Linked DNA regions of Homo sapiens. The protein of the gene in region 1 interacts with the protein of each later gene in a pairwise test. Each region holds a gene or a part of one and is shown on either strand. Other genes may lie near its edges. The genes, in order: HSPD1, NOTCH2NLA, IDH3G, PRUNE2, EGFL8, ATAD3A and LASP1.

Region 1 (3,500 bases):
ACACTCGTCTTGAATAGGTAATAAGCAGTGGTATTTGTTGATTTATATTTCTCGGTGAAAGACAGAATTATTTGTATTGCTGTTTGCAGTTTCCATCATGTGTACCTCCACATTTGATCCAGTTGGGTTTGTATCTAGAATTGTAATTGTGTAAATCAGGTGTGCTCTAATGTATCCTTATGGTTGTGTTTTTGAAGGAACCCCAAAGTCTTTACTATTTTGATCAGCTTTCTCATAGAATAGACTAATTTAGCACATGGGTACCTTTCTGTATTTTGCAAGTGTTTACAGTTGTTTTGAAGGCACATGACTGAATCTTGTATTTTTTTTTTTTGAGACAGAGTCTCACTCCCTGGCCCAGGCTGGAGTGCAGTGGCATAATCTTGGCTCACTGCAATCTCCATCTCCTAGGTTCAAACAGTTCTGCCTCAGCCTCCCAAGCAGCTGGGACTACAGGTGCGTGCCACCACACCTGACTAATTTTTGTATTTTTAGTAGAGACAGGGTTTCACCATATTGGCCAGGCTGGTCTCAAACTCCTGACCTCGTGATCCGCCCGCCTCAGCCTCCCAAAGTGCTGGGATTACAGGTGTGAGCCACTGCGCCCGGCCTTGTAATTTTTTTATTTTTTATTTTTATTTTTGGAGACAGAGTCTCTGTCACCCAGGCTGGAGTGCAGTAGTGCAGTGGCTCAATCTCAGCTCAAGCCTCCGGGGTTCAAGTGTCAATCTTGTTTTTTGTTTTGTTTTGTTTTGTTTTTTTAAGGTTTTTCTGGTTAAAAATATGTAAATTTTCAGAATATTATTTTGCATAGAACAGGGAAGTAAACAACTAACTTCCAAATAACTCAGAGCCAGGCATGGTGGCTCACAGCTATAATCCCAGCACTTGGGGAGGCACAGGCGGGTGGATCACCTGAGATCAGGAGTTCCAGACCAGCCTGGCCAACATAGTGAAACCCCGTCTCTACTAAAAATATAAAAATTAGCAGAGCATGGTGGCGTGTGCCTGTAATCCCAGCTACTCAGAGGCTGAGGCAGGAGAATCACTTGAATCTGGGAGGCGGAAGTTGCAGTGATCCGAGATTGTGCTGCTGCACCCCAGCCTGGGCAACAAAGCGAGACTCTGTCTCTAAATAAATAACTCAGATGTAAGTGTATTTCACCATCGAATATTTTTATTTATTTTGAGAGACAGACTCTGTCACCCAGGCTGGCCTGCGGCGGCACGATCATAGCTCACTGCAGCCTTGAACTCTTGGGGTCAAGCAATCCTCCTGCCTCAGCCTCCCAAGTAGCTGGGACTACACACTTGCACAAGCACACTTGGCTGATCTTTTAATTTTTTTGTAGAGACGAGGTCTCAATATGTTGCCTCAATATGTTGCCTAGGCTAGTCTTAAACTGTTGGTGAATCTTAAGTGATTCTCCCACCTCAGCCTCCCAAAGTGCTGGGATTACAGGCATGAGCCACTACCCTTGGCTGTGATCAAGTATTTAGTCTGTTGTTAAATGTTTACTAAATAGTCTGAAGTAGAGAAAATAGCACCCAATCTAAAATAAGGTGAGGTCTAGTCACTTATTTAAATCTACATTTTAAGCTATAGTTTACTATTAGTTTAAACTTTAAGACAGGTAATGTTCATGCTGCAGACAATCTAAGGGCATTATTAAAATGTTTGTTCTTCCTTATCTCAGAATTGAAGTATGTCAGAAGCAAGACTTTTCTTTCCATTTTGTTATAGTAGAAATGCATACATTAACAGGTACGTTTTAGACATTACACGTGCTCATCTGACCCAAAAGCTCTAATGAGCTGCCTTACCCTGGAATGTTTTTCTTAGCTTGGATTTGCTTTTTTGGAGGGATTAAGAAAAGACTTGGCTGGGCGTGGTGACTCATGCCTGTAATCCCAGCAGTTTGGGAAGCCGAGGCGGGTGGATCATGAGGTCAGGAGATGGAGACCATCCTGGCTAATACGGTGAAACCCCGTCTCTACTAAAAATACAAAAAATTAGCTGGGCGTGGTGGCGGGCTGAGGCAGGAGAATGGCGTAAACCCAGGAGGCGGAGGTTGCAGTGAGCCGAGATCTCGCCACTGCACTCCAGCCTGGGCGACAGAGCAAGACTCTGTCTCAAAAAAAAAAAAAAACACACAAAAAAAAGACTTGAGGCCAGAAAAAAACAAGCCTACAGAGTTTTCATTAAGCCATTTTACTGCTAGTTGAAAAGTGGGATATCCAGTTTACATAGCATATAGCTTATTCCTCTGATTTTTATTTGGGTCCTTAATAAAATAGACCAGCTGTCTTGAAGTTTGAACGTTGCTTCTGTTTCACAATCTGCTCTCAAATGGACATTTGATTACACATTCCAAGTATTCATTTACCTGGTAAAAATTTCAGGTGAGCTTAACAATACTGTCAGCTTTTTGTATAACATTTATAAAAGAAGTGAATTCAGAACATTGCTCATTCAAAACTCAGCATTAATATATGGAGATGTTTATTAAATGACCCTCAAATGTAATATTTAGTAATTACTGTTTTTCTACCATTCATAATAGTTATCACTGTATCCTATAACTTACTGTGATGTGATTTTTGCTGCTCGGCCTCCTGAGTAGTGGGGATTACAGGTGCCTGCTACCACATTTGGCTGATTTTTGTTATTTTCAGTAGAGACAGGGTTTCACCATCTTGGCCAGGCTGGTCTCGAACTCCTGACCTCGTGATCCACCTGCCTGGGCCTTGCAAAGTGCCGGGATTACAGGCCTGAGTCACCACGCCCGGCCAGGCCAACAGTTTATTAAGAAGGTAAACGGATATGGACAAGTATAATTAATAGAAAATAGCCTAAACTGTCTCAGATACTTCCTGTCTTAATTTGATCAAAAATTGCTAGGAAGCAAAAAAAAAACAAAAAAACACAAAAACCAAACCAGATTACTTAGGGAGTCCTAAGTAATCTAGTAACAGCTTGAGGGGAATTAAACAGATAGGCATTTTTATTTCATTTAAATCTTACTATCAACTATTCTTAACAGGCTAAAGGTTGGTCTTCAGGTTGTGGCAGTCAAGGCTCCAGGGTTTGGTGACAATAGAAAGAACCAGCTTAAAGATATGGCTATTGCTACTGGTGGTGCAGTAAGTAAAATAAATGTGATAATGGTTTGCTGAATGTTTATACTTGTCTGGAATTTATAGATAGTTTAACATTTCACAATTAGATACTACAACTATCTGTTTCTTTTGGCTCTTTGGAAGGTAGGGGTTGGATTAAATTCCCGTTAATTTGCCACAAGTCTGGCCTAAGAATGAGCTTACTGACTATTCTATATTGACTAAATCTTATTGACTGAATAAGGGGGTTTCCTTTTTTTTGTTTTTTTTGGAGACAGTGTCTTGATCTGTCTTGACTATTCTTGACTTGATCTATATTGACTATTCTTATTGACTTAAATCTGTGGGGTTTCTTTTTTTTTTTGAGACAGGGTGTCTTG
Region 2 (3,500 bases), on another chromosome or scaffold:
CGCTCCTTGCTCTGCCATGCTTATCTTATGCAGCTCTGGGAGGGGTGAAGAGGCTGTGGCCAGTTACCTCACTACCACTATAGCTATTCACCACCCTGTTTTCTCCTTTAGCCATTTTAGCTACTACACAATTCTTCTGGGCATTTTCTGTCTTAGTTCCCTAGTATCTGGCCTTCCCTCTTTTCTCAGTAACTGTGACCCCTGCTAGCTAGCCTTGCCAACCAATGGTTAATGAAAGGTCTTGGATATGACTGTCAAAGACAAAAGCACTCATGACCCCAATGTTTCAGGTCACAATGATTAGGAAAATCAGGACAACAAGGCTTGGGCACAGAAAAGCTGGTTTTTGAGAGGGGGATTTAGAGTTTGGTTTAAATGTGTAATCTTTGAGGTAATGGTGGAACAGCCTACTAGATTCAGTTTTCTAGTCCCTGAAAACTAAAACGAGGAATAAGTTGAATCACATATTTGGGGCACCAGCCAAATATATAGCAGCATTTATAGTTAGAATCAAAGTGTTTGTGTTTCTTAATTTAAATGCTTCTCAGAGATTCCATTTAAACAACTTCATTATGAAAATGGAGACTTACCATGCCTTTTTGATATTGTTCAGAGAAAATTGTCATAAATAATACACACAGTTTGAAATGGTTGTACATCTTATGAATCAAGGGGTGGCATGTAAAAAGGTTCCTCAGTGCCTCAATGTGGAAAATATCATAGAATGTTATTCTTCAATTGATTCCTTCCTTGACTTTGGTGTTTATATGGTATCTTAGATATTTTATGTTATTTTAATTATATTTTGTGTCTTTTTATTTGGTTAAAAATGCCTACTTAAATATTAACAGATTTTTAAATATCCCTTTGAACTCTTCCCCATTCCTGTACCTCCTTTCCCTTTTTCCGTTGTAATGTCAGCCACCTGAACATAACCCAGAAAACTAGGTATCATCCAATTGATGTTTCAGTGGAAATAAGAGAAAGAAGCACTTACTATTTCTCAATGCTTAATTGAGGAAAAGCACATGATATCTTACATATTTTAAATTGGAGGGGATAATAGGGTCAAGTTCATGCATTATATTGTGGACATCTTAATCCTATCAAATGGCTTAGTCAAAATGAGAAAGTTAATGAATTTAAGCAGACAAGTACGAACAGTGCTCTAAAAAAGGTGCTGTTACACCATCCCAACCTGTACACACATGAAAAAAAGCTGGGGTGCATTTTGCGTTTGAATAAGGGTCATGTTGACTGGCCATGGCAGACCCTGCTAGACCATACACCTGATACTCTGTCACCTGCCAGGACTCAAAAGGACATGGGAGTATGTGGTTAAGTTCTCTAAGGACTCTTTCTTCTAAAGGGAAGCAGTTTTATAGGTGGTCCTTGTAGGTCTGTTGATTCACAATCTCGTGCTTTCTTGATTGGACTGTATTGTTTTACTGTAATTTTTTGGACTTACAAGAAGTCAGGTGTTTTCATGGACTCTTCTCTTTTCCATACAGATGTCCAGAAGGCTTCTTGGGGGAATATTGTCAACATCGAGACCCCTGTGAGAAGAACCGCTGCCAGAATGGTGGGACTTGTGTGGCCCAGGCCATGCTGGGGAAAGCCACGTGCCGATGTGCCTCAGGGTTTACAGGAGAGGACTGCCAGTACTCGACATCTCATCCATGCTTTGTGTCTCGACCTTGCCTGAATGGCGGCACATGCCATATGCTCAGCCGGGATACCTATGAGTGCACCTGTCAAGTCGGGTTTACAGGTAACTAATGAGACCAAAGCCAGTGCTTTCCTACCTTCAGCAGATACCTTTATTTAGCATCTTTTAGATCATGGTGTCTGGCTCTTAAATGTCCCCCAGCTCTGGTGCACATTTAACATTATGATAAGGAACTGGGATGTTCCAGACAACTATCCCTAACTTCCTTTTAAGAGTTTCAGGGGGCAGAGAAAGAGAAAGAAAAAGGACCAAATACTTTGACTGCTTAAAGTATATATGTCAGGGCCAGGTGCGGTGGCGCACGCTTGCAATCCCAGCATTTTGGCAGGCCAAGGCAGGAGGATCACTTGAGGCTAGAGGTTTGAGACCAGCCTGGGAAACATAGCAAGACCCCATCTCTACAAAAAAACAAGAATAAAAATAAAACAAAATTAGTCATGTGTGGTGGTGTGCACCTGTAGTCCTAACTACTTGGGAGGCTGAAGTGGAAGAATTGCTTGAGCCCAGGAGTTTGAGGCTGCAGTGAGCTATGATCGCACCACTGCACTCTAGCCTGGGTGACAGAGTGAGACCCTGTCTCAAAAAAAAAAATATGTACACCAGGATGGGGAATCAGAGTTTACTTCACTAAAAGAAATAAGTACACTGTCACCAGAGGAAAAGTTGCTGATGTTATTGACTATTTGCTTTTAGAAATCTCCCTCCCTAGACATTCAGGGCACTGGCTTTTCTGGTTTTCTGAACCCTGTTCCTTTTGCTTCTTCATTACCTTGTTCTTATCCATTAAATGTTTGTGCTCCCTGGAGCACTGTTTTGCGCCCTCTTTTGAGCCACATCACAGCTCTCCCTAGGGAATTTCACTGTCTGTATTCGCCTCCACTGCCACTGTCTTCATTAGCTTGCTGATGAATCTCACCATCATTCCCTTAGCTCCACCCAACCCTGACATTCAGGCTCATGTTTCTAGTTATCCTTTGTATGTTCTCCTTGGAGATATTCTACAGGTACTTTCAGCTCACCTTGTTGACAGAAATACGTAGCAACCATGTACATCCCAAATACCCACGCTAGAAACTCCCTGTCCCTTGTTCTGACCTCATTTCAACTCAGTCACCCAAGCCAACCTCTGAGTTGCCTTTCACCTGTCTATTCCTCCCATTTCCTCTGCTACCCTGTAGTTGAAGGCCATGTTATCTCTCACCTGGGCTTCTGAAGTAGTTTCTGAATACGTTTTCTTGCCTTTATTCTCTCCCCATCTCATTCACCCATGATATTACTACATCTTTGATTATAAATGCAAATATTCTAACAATCTCACCTGCTTACAATGTCTAATATTTTTTCATCATCCGCAGAATAAACTGCAAACTCTTTTACATGACTTCCATAGCTCTCTACAGCCTAGACTTTACATCTTTTTATAGCCTGGCCTCCCCACAAGCATCTAGGCCTAGTCACACCAAATTCTCCTTATTTCCTGAAAATGTTGTACTTATTATTGCTTCCATACAGTTACACACCCTTTTGCCTGGAATGCCCTTTTCTACAACTGGTGATTGTCCAATGTTATTTAAAACTGTGTCTCAGTGACCCTTTCATGATTCCTTTAGGCAAATGGTCTCTAAGTTTTATTAGTTTTATGTATCACATTTTATTGTAATTTTTTTTACACATATCTCACCTGAATAGATTGTGGGTTTTTCTAGGTGGGTCTGAGCTTTATTCAAAAGTGTTTATTAAATTAGATGAGAAAAGGAGGAACATTCTTCAT
Region 3 (3,054 bases), on another chromosome or scaffold:
TGCTTGTCTCAGGGAGGCCGGAGGCTGGGTGCTACCTTCTTATCTCCCTATTCTGCTTTTTCTGTAGCGACCACATGCTGCTTTTGTAATAAGAAAAAGTGATCGGCGAAGTGATAACGTGACTGTTGTCATGGATCTGTGGTTTGTTGTAATGATTTCCCTGCTGTACCAGGGTTAGTTTGCCAGTTTTTGCATGTTACAAACATCGCTGAGCGGGAATAACTGGCCAAAAAAATAATCAGAAGCAAAAAAGAGGAGGGAGGGCAGGGACACGCCTTTTAAGAAATTTTCTGAAGAGCGGAAGGAGGCAGGAGGCTGGAGCGCCTTCTACTTTCCAGGTGCTCCAGCGGGCCGGCCCTGGGGACTGAGGCTTTGGAGCTAATTATCTATTGTGCCCCTGGCAGTGGGCCATGCTGCACAGACAGGGGACCTGCCTGGGCACAGTGGGGACGGTCCGTTTTTCCTTCCAACTTGGCTTTCTGGGTTAGACATCAAACCAACCGCTGGCATTTGGTCTCTGCCAGGTTCTAGGCGCCCACGAGGTCCCCTCGAGGAACATCTTTTCAGTAAGTACCTGCCCGTGCCCACGCATGTGTCTTTCTCCATGTGGCCGCAATTGTGCGCGTGTGTGCACGGCCTGTGTCCTGTCCTCTGAGACGTGGTCTCCAGGGGCTACCCACCCCTCTTCTGGGAGTTGTACTAGCCAGCATCCCCCTGGGAAAAGGTCCCACTTTCCTGGTCACGGCCTTGCTCTTGGAACCTTGGCTGATTGTGTCTTCTTCCTTTCTCATCCTTTCTAGGAACAAACAATTGTGAGTATTCTTCTCTGCCTGTTAGGTTTGGGGGGCTCTTAGTTGCTTTGGGGTTAACTAAATTCCAGGTGGGGGTGGGCTGCTGCTGACCCAGGAGCCCTGGATGAGCAGCCCTGTCTGGGACGGGGCTGCCCCAAGTTGGCACCTTGTGACGGGGCAGCCTGTGGGGTCAGCGCCAGTGGGAAGAAGGGAATTGGCTTGAGCCCATGGGGGCCGAGCTGGGGGCATGTGGGATCCCCGAAGGCCCACCTTCACCCTCTGCCTCCCACAGCCTCCGTCCGCTAAGTATGGCGGGCGGCACACGGTGACCATGATCCCAGGGGATGGCATCGGGCCAGAGCTCATGCTGCATGTCAAGTCCGTCTTCAGGTATGGAGCTCCTGGGTCCCCGCCTTGTCCTCAGCCAGGGGGCCCTGAGGACTTTGTGCCAAGAGGGGCATTGCGCCCAGAAGCACTCGGTGAGGCCATGGCAAGACGACCTGTAAGCCCAGGCCTTGCGTCCCATGGCCTGTGATCCCGCCAGACTGGCCTGGGCTCGGGGAAGGTGGCACCAGTCCTGCCACAGTGTGCATTGTGGAGTTCAAGCGTGTCCCCATCAGTCAGTGAAGGTGGGCCCAGTCCCTTCTCAGTCAGAGCCAGGTCAGGGCAGGTAGCAACAGGAGAGAGGTAGCCTGGGCAGGCTTCCTGGAGGAGGTGCGGGGGGGTCTGGGCCAGCCTCCCTGACCCTGCCGTGCCTCAGGCACGCATGTGTACCAGTGGACTTTGAAGAGGTGCACGTGAGTTCCAATGCTGATGAAGAGGACATTCGCAATGCCATCATGGCCATCCGCCGGAACCGCGTGGCCCTGAAGGGTGAGCTCCAGGGCCAGGGGCCAGGATGGGGCCCTAGGTGTGATTTCTTTCTTGCTTTCTTCCTTCGTTTCTTGCTTACTTGCTCGCTTGCTTGCTTTCTTGCTTGCTTTCCTGCTTTCTTGCTTGCTTGCTTTTTTGCTTTCTTGCTTTCTTTCTTGCGTTCTTTCTGAGATGGGGTCTCGCTCTGTCGCCCAGGCTAGAGTGCAGCGGTGTGATCTCGGCTCAGTGCAACCTCTGCCTTCCAGTTTCAAGCGATTCTCCTGCCTCAGCCTCCCGAGTAGCTGAGATTACAGGCGCCCGCCACCACGCCCAGCTGATTTTTGTATTTTCAGTAGAGAGTGGGTTTCACCATGTTGGCCAGGCTGGTCTTGAACTCCTGACCTCGTGATCTGCCCGCCTCAGCCTCTCAAAGTGTTGGGATTACAGGCGTGAGCCGTCGTGCCCAGCCCCTGTGATTTCTTTTACCTCCCTCTGAGCTGACTCTTGTGGGGCCCCACGGCTCTGATTTCAGGGCTTGTCTGGCTAGAGAGGACCCTCGTGCTTGGAGACTGGGTGGACGCCTCCTCGGGCCTGTTTGCGCTGCGATGCTGGGATTCGAGTGAGAGCAGCTGTGTGTGAGCCTGTCCAGTGACGGGCTCCCTGATGGGTTCCCTCCCACCCCTCCTTCCCTCCTGAGACAGTCCTCTCTGCTGGGGTCAGCTTTGACCCTCAGCATCTTTCTTCACAAACCAGGTATCACAGAGATGCAGTTCCGACCCTCTGCCTGGCTCCTCGGCTGCAGCCAGCCTGGAGGTGGATGGCACAGCCCAGGCAGGGATTCTTGGGGCTTCACTTGAGGTCCTTAAACTACTTCCATTGCTCATTTTGCACACTCAGCCCATTACTTGCACTGTGTGAGGAGCGTGTGAGCAAAGATGAACCCAGGGGGAGCCCCAGGCCCTGGCAGTCAAGTAGAGGGGCCTTTGTGCCAGCCACAGGGGACCCCCGCGCTGTGAGTGGAGCAGTCTGGGTGGGGTACCGCTCACCAGCAGGCGGCCTCTGCTTGGCGCCCTCTGACTGCTGTCTCCAGCGGCCACTGGCCTCTGCTTCCCTTCCTCCAGGTGTCCTGGGTCGTAGGGTAGGGTCCGGCCAATCCGTGGCCTTCTCCAGGCAGCCCCCGCCTGCCTCTGAGTGTGGTGCCTTGATGCGGGGGCTTGGCAGTAACACCGCCAAGGCCACCTTGCTAGCTCCAGCCTGGCCGGCCAACCTGTTAGTAAAGAGTGGTCACTTTCTGTTGCTCCAGAGCCTGGATGGAGAATGGCATGGCTGCCTGGCTGGTTGCCAGCCTTTATTCATTTATTGACTTGTTCATTCCGTCGTTCAGGGGTTATTCATGGAGCACCTGCTGCAC
Region 4 (3,500 bases), on another chromosome or scaffold:
GGCTTGGGTGAGGGTCCCCAGCTGCAGATTCTGGAAGAAATGAAGCCTCTAGAATCTTTGGCACTAGAGGAAGCCTCTGGTCCAGTCAGCCAATCACAGAAGAGTAAGAGCCGAGGCAGGGCTGGCCCGGATGCAGTTACGTTGCAGGCTGTCACCCATGACAATGAATGGGAAATGCTTTCACCACAGCCTGTTCAGAAAAACATGATCCCTGACACGGAAATGGAGGAGGAGACAGAGTTCCTTGAGCTCGGAACCAGGATATCAAGACCAAATGGGTAAGCAAAAAGCTAGATTTATTTTTTTTCCTGAAAAGCAATTTATTTAGAAACCTGGGAAATGGTTAGAGGTTATGGAATATGAGGAATACCTGGATGATAGCAGCTTTGCTTATATTGAATGCAAGGCACACCATCAGTAAAAGCAGCTACTAGATAACTATAACCATAATGATAATTTATGTACATTTTCAGCCAAAAAGCCCCTTCAATTTTCATTCAGTCTTATACCTACCCCCCAACTGCCACCCCACCTACTTGAATACCTACATGACTCTTCAACAGGCAGTTGGGAATACAAGGAAGTGACACTAACATTTAATCAGCACCTACTATGTGCAAGGCAGTTTGCATACATTATCTCATTTAATCCTAACATGCCAGTGGGGGGAATGGAAGGAGTAGGGTTGAGTAGGGGGATTCAAGGCTCAGAAATTTTCTATAATTTGCCTAGAATTAAGTAACCAGAGTGAACACCTGGGATTCGAAGCTTGCCACCTCCAAAGCCTGTACTTTCTCAGTTGACACACCGCTTAGCATACAGAGGCATTTTCATATTTTCAAATACAAGGCATTTTCTGGTTTTATGTAAGCACCTAACTTATAGTTAGATAAGAGACAGGCTCCACAGCAGTCTCCAAATCTCAGTGTAACACATTCATTCCCTAATTGGCAGAGAAATTGGCAAACTGTCATTAAATCAGTGATTCATTCATTCATTCATTCACCATGTGGTTTTTGAGAGCTTGCTCTGTGCCGTGGTTCTGGGTAGCCAATGGGCATATATCAGGGAATAGGATGTCATCACTGCCCTCAAGCTTCCAGTCTCTGCTGAAACTGTTTAGCATTCTTCATTTCTCTTCATTTGTGTTTATGAAGCCCACCTGCTTCCAGGGACAAAAGAACAAATTGTGAAAAGTAACTTAAGTAACGGGGAAAGTCATGTTTTCTCCTTAAAATGTAATAGAGAAAAGATATCGGCCAGGTGCGGTGGTTCATACCTGTAATCCCAACACCTTGGGAGCCCAAGGTGAGTGGATCACTTGAGGTCAGGAGTTTGAAACCACCCTGGCTAACATGGTGAAACCCCGTCTCTACTAAAAATTCAAAACTTAGCTGGGGTGGTGGCAGCACCTGTAATCCCAGCTACTTGGGAGGCTGAGACAGGAGAATTGCTTGAACCTGGGAGGTGGAGGTTGCAGTGAGCCGAGATCGTGTGACTGCACTCCAGCCTGAGTGACAGAGCCAGACTCCGTCTCAAAAAAAAAAAAAAGCGAGAAAAGATATATTTTTGCTACTCAGCTTGGGAGTGTAAAGGACTATACACATCACATACCCACAGTGAGTCAAGGAATCTGGATTCCAGCCTGCCTCTACCATGACTGATTATACATTTTAGGATTAATCCCAGGCTTAGGTTTTCTCATGCGTAAAATTAGTGAGTTGGGCTGAAAGATCTCAAGGCTTCCTGCAGTATTAAATTCTGGGAACTTAATTTGTGTGGAAACAGAATGTGTCCAGGGGAGCTTTGGCATTCACAAATTACATTTCTTGATGAAAGGAACAAGGACAATGGAAAGAATAGCTGGGGTATGTTGAGGATTAGCCAAGTGCAGAAGGGGTTAAAAGCTCTACCATATTCCAGGGCAGCTTCATAAATCCAGACATTGTCAGCTGGCCTAATCCTTCTTTCTTCCTGTCAAGCTATTTTCTTCCAGAGAGACCCCAGATCCGTTATCAGAAAGAGAGTAGCAGATGGATCCCAGCAGCCCTGCTGGCATTGTTATAGATTGAGCTCAGAACTCAGGCAGCCATGAGTTGGCTGAGCTATTGTTTGGCTTCTTGTGTGCATTTTGCACATGCCCCGAGATCCAACAGATGACAGTCAGTGTTCAATTGTGCCACCAGCACCTTTTCTTTCAACAAGATTTCTTTGCTCATCCCTTTCTGCTCAGCTTTTGTAGTACTGAAACTTTTCTCACAATGGGGATGGGGCAGATTTTCCCTCCGGCATGTGTATTATCTTTTGCATAAATAATTTACTGTGAATGTGTAAGTCTCCCTCTGTGCTAGATTTTGGGAGAATAAAGAGTTGTCTAAAACTGTGGTTCTCTAAGTGGGGTCCTAAGAACAGCAGCATCAGTATCACCTGAGTACTTGTTAGAAATGCAAATTATCGGCTCCGACTCAGACCTCCGGAATCAGGAACTCTGGGGGTGAGGCCCAGCCAGCTGAGCTTCAGCAACTCCTGATGCCCTCCAAAGCTTGAGAACCACTGGTTTAAAACATACTGTCAGCCGTCTAGGAGTTTACAGTTTAACTAAAGAGTTAGACATAAGTAAAAAGGTAGATAGCAGTGTAATATTTAAGTCAAGCTAGTCAATGCCCAATGTCAGTTTAAGTATAAAATGGGTACTAACTACAGGCTATTTGCTGTTGGACCAGGTGTTAAGCACTCTGCGCTATTTCACTTTACATAGGGCAACCCTGCGAGACAAGAATTATACAAGTGAGGAAATAAGAGGAGAGATATCTGTTTCGGGCGCCTTTATGGAGCAGGCAGCAGGAATGGCTTATTCTCTGTCAGACACAGGAGACAGAGTGCCCAGGGCCCATGATACTTTAAGGAGCCCATGAGAATATTTTCTTTTATAGTCAGAAGAAAAAATTATTATACTTTCAAGTGGATTTGTCTTTATACCAACAAAGTTATAAAATAAATTTTTAAAAAATGTTTTAATGACAGAAGGGGCTTATGAAGGCACTCCTCAAGGGGCTTATGAAAGTCACTAAAGGAAAGGTCATAATTTGGAAAGGCAAAGAAGAGGGTAAGAAGCTAGCTGAGTGAACTGGGATGAATACTATGAAGGAAGCCATGGGGACAGGAAGGTAATCACAGAAGCAAAACAATGAGATAGCTGTGGTTTCCCAAACAAAAACCTGGAAACATCTTCTGACACATAATCTGATCATAGAACAGAAGATCCAAAATCAAGACCATTCTGCAAAAAAGAAAATTAAGAAAGCCTCTTCTTAAATAGAAATAGGTTCATAGTATGTGCAATATGACTCACCAGCTGCAAATCAGCTTCTTCCCTCCCCTCCTTCAGCCTCAGCCTCTCTTAGCTGCCAAACTGTTTTGAGAGCTGCAAGCCACATTTTGAAAATCTGAGAAAGCATGAGAAAAATGCCTTTTCTCCTCATATGCCACCTACTGACTCT
Region 5 (4,221 bases), on another chromosome or scaffold:
TCATTTGGGGGATTGCTCCGTGCTGTCCCTTTCTCTCAAGGCCGAAGTTGGGAAGTGAGAAACCATGTTTTTAACTTGTGGCTGCTTTTGCTGCTGCTGCTCCTCCGTATCTGGCTGTATGGGTGGAGAACCCACCCCCTGCCCACCACAGGGGTCTCCTTCCAGGCCACTCAGGACATTTTTAGCTTCTCTCCTCCCCATGTTCCCTTTTTTCTCTAAAGTCCCCTGACATCAGCCCTCCCAACTCCTAAGAGGGACTACCCATGAGAGTGGGGTTCTGAGGCTCCCCTATGGGGACAGTTCCGTTCTTGAAGTGTCAGTGTTGGGGAATATCTGTGGCCTATGAGGCCCATCTCAGGTTTGGGGATCCCCCAGTCCCTATGATCAGTGTTGGAGTACCCCCCTGGGAGAGCCTAGTTTCTTTGAGGCCCCAGGCCCTCTTTTAACTACCTTTGAATAGGTGTTATCCCTGTATTTATGGAAATAAAGTTCCATTTCCTCAGTGTGACTTGGCTCATTTCCAGGTGGAGGGGACCTGGCTCCCCAAGGAGGGTGGGGGTGGAGCCTGAGGCCTGGGTGCCCAGATGCCTGGTCTAGGGTGGGGACCCCCTTGGTGTTTCCGCTCTCTCTCAATGCCCATTCTTTGTGGGTTCCTGGTTCTCTGCGGGTTCTTTCCTGCTGAAGACAATTCTCTTCCTCTCCCAGTCCCCAAGACTGGGGGGTTAAGCTCAGGGCTCCAGTGGTTTGGGCCTCAGCCTCATGGGTGGAATGCGCCTGCCACCCCCAGGCTAGACGAGGGGGCAGAGGGTCAGGGTGGGCATTCGTTGTGCCGCTTTTGAGCTTTGTGGGCCAGAGCTGGGTGTAGGGCTGGACAATGAGCCTCCTCTTCCTTGAAAGAAGGAATTTTGGCTGAGACAATAGGGCCCTGTCTGTTCTGGCATGGGGGGTGGTGGCTGACTCAATTCTGTTCCCCCTAAGCCCTAACAAATGTCATGAAGAGAGGGGGGCAGTTTTCCCCTTGGTGCCCTGGGCTGCCCCCCTGCCCCTTTGTGACGACTTGCCCTTCTAGCTTTCCTCAGCTGATCTTGCTTTTTCTCCCATAACCTGAACTGCTTTGTTCCCTGCAGCTGGTTCTCTCCCTGCCCCCTAACTCTCCCCTAGTCTGTTTTGGGTTCAAGGGGGTACTGGTGGTGTTACAGAGCTCATAGCTTCTGATCTGGGGAGTCCAGAAATAGGGGCCTCAGAGGGTTGGAAAGATACTTCTAGGGAGCCCTTTGCTGGGGTGGGGATGAGGGTAGTGGGACTTGACCCTACTGAGCTGACCCTGCTGGAGCTAAGGAGGAGGCTTGTGGGAGGGGGCAGGAATGGGAGGACTCTCTGGCCCAGCCCCTCCTCTCCTTCTTAGCCTGCCAGGCCCACCCACCAGTCTGAGCTGCTTCTGCTGAGGCTGGTCTGCTTGAAGCCTCCCAGGAGAAAGAAGCCAGGTGGGAATGGAGAGAGAGAGGAAGGCAAGTGGGGAGAGAATTTCAAATGGGGAAAGAGTGGGGTTTACTCAGAGCCTTAGGGTGGGCATGAGTTGCGGGGTGTTTTGTTGGAGCAAGGGATGTGCATTTAGGGCGTTATGTGACGGTGTGGGTATATGAGGGGAGTAGCAGTGTGTGAAAGGTGTGGAGTTTCCAGGTGCTTGGTTTGTGTGTACGGTGTGAAGGTATATAGCTAGGGGTTTTTTTTGTTTGTTTGTTTTGTTTGTTTTTTTGAGACGGAGTCTTGCTCTGTCGCCCAGGCTAGAGTGCAGTGGCATGATCTTGGTTCACTGCAACCTCTGCCTCCAGGGTTCAAGGGATTCTCCTGCCTCAGCTTCCCGAGTAGCTGGGATTACAGGCGTCCACCACTGCGCCTGGCTAATTTTTTGTATTTTTTAGTAGAGATGGGGTTTCACCATCTTGGCCAGGCTGGTCTCGAACTCCTGACCTCATGATCCACCCACCTCAGCCTCCCAAAGTGCTGGGATTACAGGTGTGAGCCACCGCGCCCAACCAGCTAGGGTTTTGAAGGTATGAAGTTATAAGAGGGCATGTTAAAGACAGGAGGGTTGGCCAGGCATGGTGGCTCACACCTGTAATCCCAGCACTTTGGGAGGCCAAGGCAGGCGGATCACCTGAAGTCGGGAGTTCGAGACCAGCCTGACCAACATGGAGAAACCCCGTCTCTACTAAAAATACAAAACAAAATTAGCCGGGCGTGGTGGCAGGCGCCTGTAGTCCCAGCTACTCGGGAGGCTGAGGCAGGAGAATGGCATGAACCCGGGAGGCGGAGCTTGCAGCAAGCCGAGATCGCACCACTGCACTCCAGCCAGGGTGACAGCGAGACTCCGTCTCAAAAAACAACAACAAAAAAAAAACCAAAAAAAAAAAACCCTAGCTATATACCCTCACACCCTACAAAACAAAACAAAACAAAATTAGCCAGGCGTGGTGGCGCATGCCTGTAATCCCAGCTATTTGGGAGGCTGAGGCAGGAGAATCACTTGAACCTGGGGGGCGGAGGTCGTGCGGTGAGGCAAGAACATGCCATTGCATTCCAGCCTGGGTAGTAAGAGCGAAACTCCTTCTCAAAAACAAAAACAAAAAAAAACCCAAAAAAAGACAGGAGGGTCATAAGGGGAGGGTTGACTGTGTGTCCCTCCAGGTTGTGCAGAGGGGATTAGAAGTAAGTAGGTTAGAGGGGAGGTGGAGGGAGTGTGCTGGGGTGTGAGCTTTTATGATGCTGAAAGGATCATGATATGCTAAGGACAGGATAGTGTTGGGTTGTACACACAGGTGTAGGCAATCCTGGTGGCTAGTATGTAAAAGTGAATGTCCTGACTCCCTTAGAGGGTACCTGCAGAGTGCCCTTGGAGGGACTAGTGCTGGAGAAATTAATAGGAGAGGGGACGGGCATCCATTAACCTTTTCTTGCCTGCAGCCTGTAGGGTCCAGCGTCAAAGCGAATCATGGGGTCCAGGGCTGAGCTGTGCACTCTCTTAGGCGGATTCTCCTTCCTCCTGCTACTGATACCAGGCGAGGGGGCCAAGGGTGGATCCCTCAGAGAGAGGTGACAACAGAGGGGGTAGGGCCCGGGGTGAGCTCTTCTCAGGAGCCTTCTGCTGGGGGTGGGGCTTCACAGGAGGCAAAACATAACTGTAAGTTTAGAATGGGGGTGAGAGGCTGTCATCTGGAGGGAGAGCGGGGGGCCTCAGTAGCCTCTTGAGGGAAGTGGGACTCCTGGCTCCCCAGGGCCTGGCCTACTCAATCTCTCCCACCTCATCCTCTGGCATGGACGCAGTCAGGGAGTCTGCTCCAAGCAGACACTGGTGGTCCCGCTCCACTACAACGAGTCCTACAGCCAACCAGTGTACAAGCCCTACCTGACCTTGTGCGCTGGGAGGCGCATCTGCAGCACTTACAGGTGAGGGATGGGGAGATGGGACCCCAAGAACCCCAACTAGGACCCGTACTCAGGGTCCTGAGCCGGGCGCTGTGTTCCAGGACCATGTACCGCGTTATGTGGCGGGAGGTGAGGCGGGAGGTTCAGCAGACCCATGCAGTGTGCTGCCAGGGCTGGAAGAAGCGGCACCCGGGGGCGCTCACCTGTGAAGGTGAGGCTGGGTCTTCCGGGCCTTGCGGGAGGCGCGCCCCACGGAGCTGGGGAGCTGGGTCGTCGGTTTGAGTCTGAACCCCACTTCCTCTGTCCTCAGCCATCTGCGCCAAGCCTTGCCTGAACGGAGGCGTCTGCGTTAGGCCTGACCAGTGCGAGTGCGCCCCCGGCTGGGGAGGGAAGCACTGTCATGTGGGTGAGTCAGCTTGTCCTCCCCACCTACCCAGGTGCTTGCCCCCGCCCCCTCTCTCAGCCCCTTCCTTTTTTCGGTAACTAGACGTGGATGAATGTAGGACCAGCATCACCCTCTGCTCGCACCATTGTTTTAATACGGCAGGCAGCTTCACCTGCGGCTGCCCCCATGACCTAGTGCTAGGCGTGGACGGGCGCACCTGCATGGAGGGGTCCCCAGAGCCCCCAACCAGTGCCAGCATACTCAGCGTGGCCGGTGAGTGGGCAGGAGTACGGGCCACCCGAGGGACTCGGGACGGGCGTCCGGGCTCGGGTAGTGGTCACACTCTTGGTCTCCTTTGTCCCTAGTTCGGGAGGCGGAAAAAGATGAGCGCGCTCTGAAGCAGGAGATTC
Region 6 (3,500 bases), on another chromosome or scaffold:
CGGGAGGATCACGAGGTCAGGAGATCGAGACCATCCTGGCTAACACGGTGAAACCCCGTCTCTGCTAAAAACACAAAAAATTAGCCAGGTGTGGTGGCGGGAGCCTGTAGTCCCAGCTACTTGGGAGGCTGAGGCGGGAGAATGGCGTGAACCTGGGAGGTGGAGCTTGCAGTGAGCCGAGATGGGGCCATTGCACTCCAGCCTGGGTGATAGAGCGAGATTTCTTCTCAAAAAAAAAAAAAAAAAAAGCTGTTTTTCACACAAAGCTTACAGAGAAAAAGAAACTGAACAGAGGGCTGCAGCCTGGCCCAGGCAGACGGCTGTGCCCACCCCACCACCCCATTGTGGCCAGAGGCTTAGTGACACTCACGGTGGCTCGCTTCCGAAGGAAGGCGTCCGCTTCATCCACAAAGAGCAGGAGGCTGTGAACGAGAGGGAGGCCAAGCAGGGCGAGAGTGACACCAGGAGCAGCCCACAGCAGCGTCCGGCCGCGGCAGGAGCAGGCCAAGCAGGCAGATCCCCACGGGGTCAGGCTCTGCCCCATCAGCAGCCCTAAGTCCTGGACTCGACAGAAGCCGATCAGCCTGGCCTCTGGGCAGCTGACCACGGCCCAGCCTCAGAAGGCCGTGGGAAACCAACCACACACGGGGGCGACGAACTCCGCCCCACAGGCTTCACCCCCACCCGGCCCAGTGCAGCACTGGTGGCCGCTTAGAGTCCACGACAGGGACAGGTCTTCTAAAGTGAAAGGTCAAAGGCCAGAGGGGAGGGTGCCAACCATGAGCATCGTGGTTCCAACGAGGACAGCCGAGGCCACAAGGGTGCCCGGGCTGTGCCCTGCGCGGGGTCACTGTGGGACCTATTGAAGGGAGTGTGCCATGCTGTCTTCAGCTAACTTTCAAATGGTTCTAGAAAAGGCAACCAGTGCCCACGCCCACCTGCAGGCGTGTTGGGGGGAGGGCGGCTGTGGAGGAGCCTCCCCTGCAGCTGTGAAGACTCCTCTCCCCCTGCACCCACCCACCTCCCTTCTGCCCTGAGCCAAGTATCCCACTGGCAGCCTCCACACGCTGGGGGCCTCGTGTCCACCAGGGTCCACACTCAGGGGACTTTCCCTCCGAGGGACCCTCCACTGGGCCTCCTGCGTGGCCACAAGGACAGAGCTGCAGAAAGACAGGGTCCCCAAGAGACACCTGGACCCCCTTCCCAGAAGGCAGCCTGCTGGGCCGCAGCCAAGGGCCTGGTGCATGCTGTGGGGACGTCTCACCCGCGCCGGCTGGTATTGGCCCAGTCAAAGAGCTTGTGCATGGCGGTCACGCCTTCCCGCCCCATGGGGGCCACGTCCCCGCCTGTCATGATGGCGTAGTCCATGCCTGAGTGCAGGGCGAGTTTCTGGACAGGAAGAGTGAGGGGAGACAGAGCAGATGTTCCCTCCGCCTCTGCAAAGCCTGCACACTCCACCCGGAGTGTGGAGGCTCTGCCCAGCGTCCCTGCCTGGAAGCCACAGCCTGCCAGACAGGAGACGTCCCCCGCCTGGAAGATGGGAGGCGCTGCTGCCCACACCAGCACCCTGAGCCTACACGAGGGTGGGCAAAGGCCTAAGGGGGGTCCATTCCCCAGGCAGCTGAGCCCCCCAGACACCTGCAGGCAGGTGAGACCCCAGCGGCCCCTGGCCCACCTGTTCAGCCAGGCGCTCTCACCTTGGCAAACAGCGTCTTCCCGGTGCCTGGTGGCCCGTACATCAGGATGTTCCTGTACAGGCTGCGGTTCTTCTTGGTGTTCCTTGTTGCTATGGCGATGTCGCGCACCCGTGCTTCCAGGCTGGGCTGCCGGGGAAGACGGGGGTTTGGAGGAGACACTGTGCACCCATGGAAGCCTCAGGGGAAGGGGCTGCGGGAATGCCTGGGTGCAGACTCGGCTCCTCGGGAAGCCTCCCACCTCAGGGGCAGCCTATCTATCCCCAGCACGGTCCAAGCAGTCGCATCTCAGGACCCAAAAGCTCCTGGGTGCCACCACGAGCGCCAGCAAGGGCCACAGCCCGGCCCAGCTCCAGGGTCCCCTCCCTGCGCCTCCCCGGTCCCAGGCACACCGACTTACACTGAGCACAACACCCTCCAGCGCGTCCTGGGGTCGACTGAGGAGCCGCCGGCTGACCTGCCGGAGGGGAAGGGGAAGCGCCATCGGGTCACCTGCCACAGCCACGGAACAGCCACCAACGCGCACACACACGCTCGGTAACACGCAGAAACGGAGCTGCCCCAAAGCACAGCCAGGACCGGCCCGGAGCTGGAACCCTGCCCCGCCCGGAGACCAGGCGGCTATTGCTGGGATTAGGGGCATTTTCCGGTTCCTTATTGGCTTTTATTTTCTTAACCACCTACCCAGTGACCTGTGGAGAGCAGGCACCTCGGGGGCGGCGAGCGGCGCGGCTCCCCAGGGAGGCCACCAGACGCCGTGGCCTGTAGCAGCTTCCCTGATAGACGGCCGCACACCCAAGTCCCGGGTCTTGCAAGGACCCCGATGTGCTCCCAGGCCCCATCAAGAGCCCTGAGCAGGGGACACCGAGGCAGACAGGGGAAGGGTCTCACTGATGCAGACCCCTAAGGTACAGCGCCAGACAGGAAAACCCACCCGTGAAGCAGTGTGCGGGTGCCCGTTATCCGGGGAAAGGGAAGGGACGGGAGGGTGTGCGTGGGCTGTGCTCGTGGGGCAGAAGGGACTCAGCCAGGAACTGCACTCAGGGAGGGCCAGGCCTGCGCTGCTACCTGGATGGGGTGCCGCAGCGCCTCAAGCACCGTGATGCGGGACGTCTCCCTCACTAGGGACGGCTTCCCCAGCCGAGCCTCGATGAAGCGGCCGGCGACAAGCGTGGCATTCTTGGCTGAGTAGACCCCAACAGCCAGCAGCGTCAGCCCAGCCACCTGCAGCAGAGACACCGCACTGGCGCACCGGCCCCCACCGTCCCTCCCTCTTAGAGCAGGAGACGCACGGGGCTGCCCCCACCCTCTCTCCGCCCGAGGGAGAAGCACAGGGCCGTGCACTGGCCCCACAGGAACGCGAATTCCCGGCCCCGAATCCCACAGCCACGCGGTTACAGGAGGCAGGTGGGGCAGTCACAGCGCCCTCACTCAGGGCCATTTTCTCTGCAACTGGCAGCATAAATCCTAGAAAGCCTCGGTCGCTGAGCGGGGCCCTGGACAGACCCAGCCGGATGTCACAGGGCCACACCCTCTGGTACATTCTTGGCCACTAAAAATGGTACTTTATTCCTGGAAAACAAGACTAACCCAAAATCTCTAACTCGTTTTAAAAATCAATTAGGCTGGCTGGGCACAGTAGCTCAGGTCTGTAATCCCAGCACTTTGGGAGGCTGAGGCAGGTGGATCACCTGAGGTCAAGAGTTCAAGACCAGCCTAACCCACATGGAGAAACCCCGTCTCTACTAAAAATACAAAAAATTAGCTGGCCATGGTGGCACATGCCTGTAATCCCATCTACTTGGG
Region 7 (3,500 bases), on another chromosome or scaffold:
TCTCCTCCCAGAGGAAAAGGCTCCCTGTCACCCCATCGCTAATGCAGATAGCGTCATGTCCAGGGAAGCTGTCACACATTCATCTGGGCCCCCAACATCAAGGACACCTGTCCCTGCAGGCCCCCTGCTGGCACCTTCGGGGCCCAGGGCAGGCCCCTGTCCATTCCGTGTCTGCACTTCCCTCCCTGGTCACAGGTTCTCAGGGGCAGGCTCTTTTCCTTAGCAGAAAGGAAACAAGGGAAGCTGACCTTTCCCACCTCAGAACAAAAGTTGGAAGGGCAGGTGCCTCGTGAGCCTGGAGGCCTCAGGAGGGGTGTCCCCTTCCCTTGTGCCCTCCCCGCCACCAACACCAGTGGACAGGGATCACTAAGAGAGTGGGGCTCGGGAGACTCACCTTCTGCGCTGGGTCTGTGAGAACATCACCTGGAGTGCCCCTCCCAGCGGATGCTGGGGTCGGTTGGATTTTCAGCCTGGCCAGGGTTGGCTGCCTCACCTCAGGAACAGGCTTAGCCTGTGCTGCCACGTGGGTGCCGGTCCTTGCTCTGGCCTGAAGGGAGGGGGCCGGGAAAGGAGGGACTGATCCTGACCCAAACCCCTAAGTAAACTGCCCTCTGCGTCCAGACTGGACTCCCCCCAGACTCTGTCCAGGCCCTTACCACTGCCCTCCCTGTGCCCCCAGCCCGGGCTGCAGGAACTATTGGCTGTTCAGCCAGCAGGAGCAGCAACCATGCAGGTGTTTCCAGCTGTTAACGTGTAAGCCCTGCCTGGCCACGTGCTTGCTCTTGCCTTTTGTGCACAGCCAGTGCCAAGGGGGAGAGGAGGCAGCAGAGACGTTGTGCGGAGGGGATGCCCAAAGGGGACTGCCCAGGCTGGGACAGCCCTGATGGGGCAGGGGCGTTCCAGGAAACAGCAGGTTTTGCCTCTCCTCCTCTTCCCACCCCACTACTCCCACCCCATTTTCCCGGATCAGGAAAAGGCAGGCCAGCATTCTAGGGAACAGGAAGTGAAGTTGGCTTCCAGCTAGGTGCCTGCCAGGGCCTGGAGGAAATTCCTGCAGGCCTGAGCCCGTCTGGGAAGGACCAGTTTCTCTCCTTGTCCTGGTGTCCTGCTTTCTGAGTTTCCCCTGAGGGTGGGGGAGAGCTGTCACTCTCTTCACTCTATGTCCCGCTTCCTCCCCCATCCTCATGGAGCACTCAAACCCTGAACCCTCACACCTTTCTATGGTTGTACCCGTCCCCACCAGTTTCCTCTCTGGAAAGTGAAGAGGAGGCTGGGCACGGTGGCTCACGGCTGTAATCCCAGCACTTTGGGAGGCCGAGGTGGGCAGATCACAAGGTCAAGAAGTTCAAGACCAGCCTGGCCAACATGGTAAAAGCCTGTCTCTACTAAAAATACAAAAATTAGCCGGGCGTGGTGGCAGTTGCCTATAATCCCAGCTACTCAGGAGGCTGAGGCAGGAGCATCACTTGAACCCGGGAGGCAGAGGGTGCAGTAAGCCGAGACTGTGTCACTGCACTCCAGCCTGGGCGACAGAGCGAGACTCCATCTCAAAAAAAAAAAAGAAAGAAAAGTGAAGAGGATAGAGCCCACTAGGGGTCATCAAGGTGTGGGACAGGCAGCATGTTCCTACAGGAAGAAAACTCTAACTCCTGGTTCTGGTTCTTTTTCATCTCATTCATTCATTCATTCATTCATTCATTCATTTGTTTTGAGATGGACTCACTCTGTCTCCCAGGCTGGAGTACAGTGGCTCGATCTCAGCTCACTGCAATCTCCGTCTCCTGGGTTCAAGTGATTCTCATGACTCGGCTTCCCAAGTAGCTGGGATTACAGGTGCCCACCACCATGCCTGATTAAGTTTTGTATTTTCAGTAGAGACAGGGTTTCACTGTGTTGGCCAGGCTAGTCTTGAACTCCTGACTTCAAGCAATCTGCCAACCTCGACCTCCCAAAGTGCTGGGATTAAAGGTGTGAGCCACCGCACCTGGCCATCTCATACTTTCACAATTCATTCTTTGGTGCAAGTTTTACAATATACATTCTATATTTGTCAAGTGATAACTTCCATGTAACTTATAAAATACACATAATTCAGGAAGATTGTGCTAAAATACATTTAACCAATAGGAGTATGCCGTCAGAATATTTTGGCAAACAAGGGTCACTAAGTTTTTTCTGTAAAGGGCCAGGTAGGAGGTATCTCAGGCTTTGTGGCCATATGGCCTCTGTGGCAGCAGCTCAGTTCTGCAGTTCTGCCATGAAAGCAGCCACAGATAAGAGGTAATTGAGTGGGTGTGGCTGTGTTCCAATAAAACTTTATTTCTGGAGGCTGAAATTTGAATTTCAGAGAAATTTCATGTGTCATGAAATATTATTCCTCTTTTGGTTCTTCTTCCCCCCCTCCACCGCCCCCTGCCAAGCATTAAAGAATGTGGAACCCGTTCTTAGCAGCCGGCTGTGGGCTGGATTTGGTCCATGGACCATAGATTCCCAGCTTCTGCTCTAGACCACCCGTTCTCAGACTTGAAGCCTGCTTCAGACTTACCTGGAGAGCTTTTTTCCAAAATGCATATTCCAGAACCCCAGCCCTGATTTTGTAGATTTTCTGGAAGGCCCCAGAACCCGCATTCTAACAAGGAGCCCAGTTGAGTCAGACACAGGTAGTCTGGAGTCCACTTTTTTTTAAACAGAGTCTCAGTCTGTTGCCCAGGATGCAGTGCAATGGCGTGATCTTGGCTCACTGCGACCTCCGCCTCCAAGGTTCAAGCAATTCTCGTGCCTCAGCCTTCCGAGTAGCTGGGATCACAGGTGCCTGCCATCATGCCCAGCTAATTTTTGTATTTTCAGTAGAGACGGCATTTCACCATGTTGGCCAGGCTGGTCTCAAACTCCTGACCTCAGGTGATCCACCAGCCTCAGCCTCCCAAAGTGCTGGGATTACAGGCGTGAGTCACCGCGCCCGGCCAGGAGACCACATGTTAAGAAGCAAAGCTCAAGGGTCTCCAGGATCCTGGTCTGTTCTCTTCAGCCAGTCCTGAGGCCTGGGGTGTGCAGTGCTGTGGGAGACCCCTGCATCAGAATAACTGGCTCCTTCACTACCTTCCAGGAGCTTCCATCCAGTGGGGGTGGGGGACACCACCCGCCAACAGCACAGCCCAGTCCCAGGTGCTATGGAAGCCCTGGGTTCAGCCTGGAGCCAGGGCCAGCGTCCCGAGGATGAGGTGCCGAGATGGACCTTGAAGGATGAGAGAAGCCTGGACTGCCCTTGAGTGGCGAGGGTGGGCTGCCTCCAGGTTGACCTTAATCCCTTCCCTCCCTACCACCATGTGTCCAGATGACCTTGGGCAGGTCCCTTAGCCTCTCTGGATATCGGGATATGACATTGACTACCTCAGAGACTTGTGGGGAGGATTCGGCGAGCTGATATGCATGAAGTGTATCAACTAGGGCTGCTGGCTGGTATCTCCTTCCCTTGTCTTCCCCCACCACCCCAGCCAGGG

Evidence for each region.
Region 2: the proteins of HSPD1 (region 1) and NOTCH2NLA interact in binary tests that used the Homo sapiens proteins (3 or more experiments, as listed by UniProt).
Region 3: the proteins of HSPD1 (region 1) and IDH3G interact in binary tests that used the Homo sapiens proteins (3 or more experiments, as listed by UniProt).
Region 4: the proteins of HSPD1 (region 1) and PRUNE2 interact in binary tests that used the Homo sapiens proteins (3 or more experiments, as listed by UniProt).
Region 5: the proteins of HSPD1 (region 1) and EGFL8 interact in binary tests that used the Homo sapiens proteins (3 or more experiments, as listed by UniProt).
Region 6: the proteins of HSPD1 (region 1) and ATAD3A interact in binary tests that used the Homo sapiens proteins (3 or more experiments, as listed by UniProt).
Region 7: the proteins of HSPD1 (region 1) and LASP1 interact in binary tests that used the Homo sapiens proteins (3 or more experiments, as listed by UniProt).

The regions. Positions count from the first base shown.
Region 1 is NC_000002.12:197,489,841-197,493,340, reverse strand, and holds part of HSPD1 (60 kDa heat shock protein, mitochondrial), read left to right. Parts: coding exon 1-17; intron 18-3,044; coding exon 3,045-3,144; intron 3,145-3,500. UniProt on the Homo sapiens protein: Chaperonin implicated in mitochondrial protein import and macromolecular assembly. Together with Hsp10, facilitates the correct folding of imported proteins.
Region 2 is NC_000001.11:146,163,022-146,166,521, reverse strand, and holds part of NOTCH2NLA (notch homolog 2 N-terminal-like protein A), read left to right. Parts: intron 1-1,511; coding exon 1,512-1,771; intron 1,772-3,500.
Region 3 is NC_000023.11:153,788,322-153,791,375, reverse strand, and holds part of IDH3G (isocitrate dehydrogenase [NAD] subunit gamma, mitochondrial isoform a precursor), read left to right. Parts: intron 1-524; coding exon 525-566; intron 567-800; coding exon 801-812; intron 813-1,083; coding exon 1,084-1,181; intron 1,182-1,551; coding exon 1,552-1,664; intron 1,665-3,054. UniProt on the Homo sapiens protein: Regulatory subunit which plays a role in the allosteric regulation of the enzyme catalyzing the decarboxylation of isocitrate (ICT) into alpha-ketoglutarate.
Region 4 is NC_000009.12:76,700,115-76,703,614, reverse strand, and holds part of PRUNE2 (protein prune homolog 2), read left to right. Parts: coding exon 1-278; intron 279-3,500. UniProt on the Homo sapiens protein: May play an important role in regulating differentiation, survival and aggressiveness of the tumor cells.
Region 5 is NC_000006.12:32,163,174-32,167,394, forward strand, and holds the start of EGFL8 (epidermal growth factor-like protein 8 precursor), read left to right. Parts: upstream 1-1,421; 5' UTR 1,422-1,484; exon of another isoform or gene 1,485-1,508; intron 1,509-2,964; 5' UTR 2,965-2,992; coding exon 2,993-3,093; exon of another isoform or gene 3,094-3,324; coding exon 3,325-3,447; intron 3,448-3,527; coding exon 3,528-3,637; intron 3,638-3,736; coding exon 3,737-3,832; intron 3,833-3,913; coding exon 3,914-4,084; intron 4,085-4,176; coding exon 4,177-4,221.
Region 6 is NC_000001.11:1,522,162-1,525,661, reverse strand, and holds part of ATAD3A (ATPase family AAA domain-containing protein 3A), read right to left. Parts: intron 2,919-3,500; coding exon 2,763-2,918; intron 2,152-2,762; coding exon 2,095-2,151; intron 1,824-2,094; coding exon 1,698-1,823; intron 1,390-1,697; coding exon 1,265-1,389; intron 423-1,264; coding exon 371-422; intron 1-370. UniProt on the Homo sapiens protein: Essential for mitochondrial network organization, mitochondrial metabolism and cell growth at organism and cellular level. May play an important role in mitochondrial protein synthesis. May also participate in mitochondrial DNA replication.
Region 7 is NC_000017.11:38,908,058-38,911,557, forward strand, and holds part of LASP1 (LIM and SH3 domain protein 1), read left to right. Parts: intron 1-3,500. UniProt on the Homo sapiens protein: Plays an important role in the regulation of dynamic actin-based, cytoskeletal activities.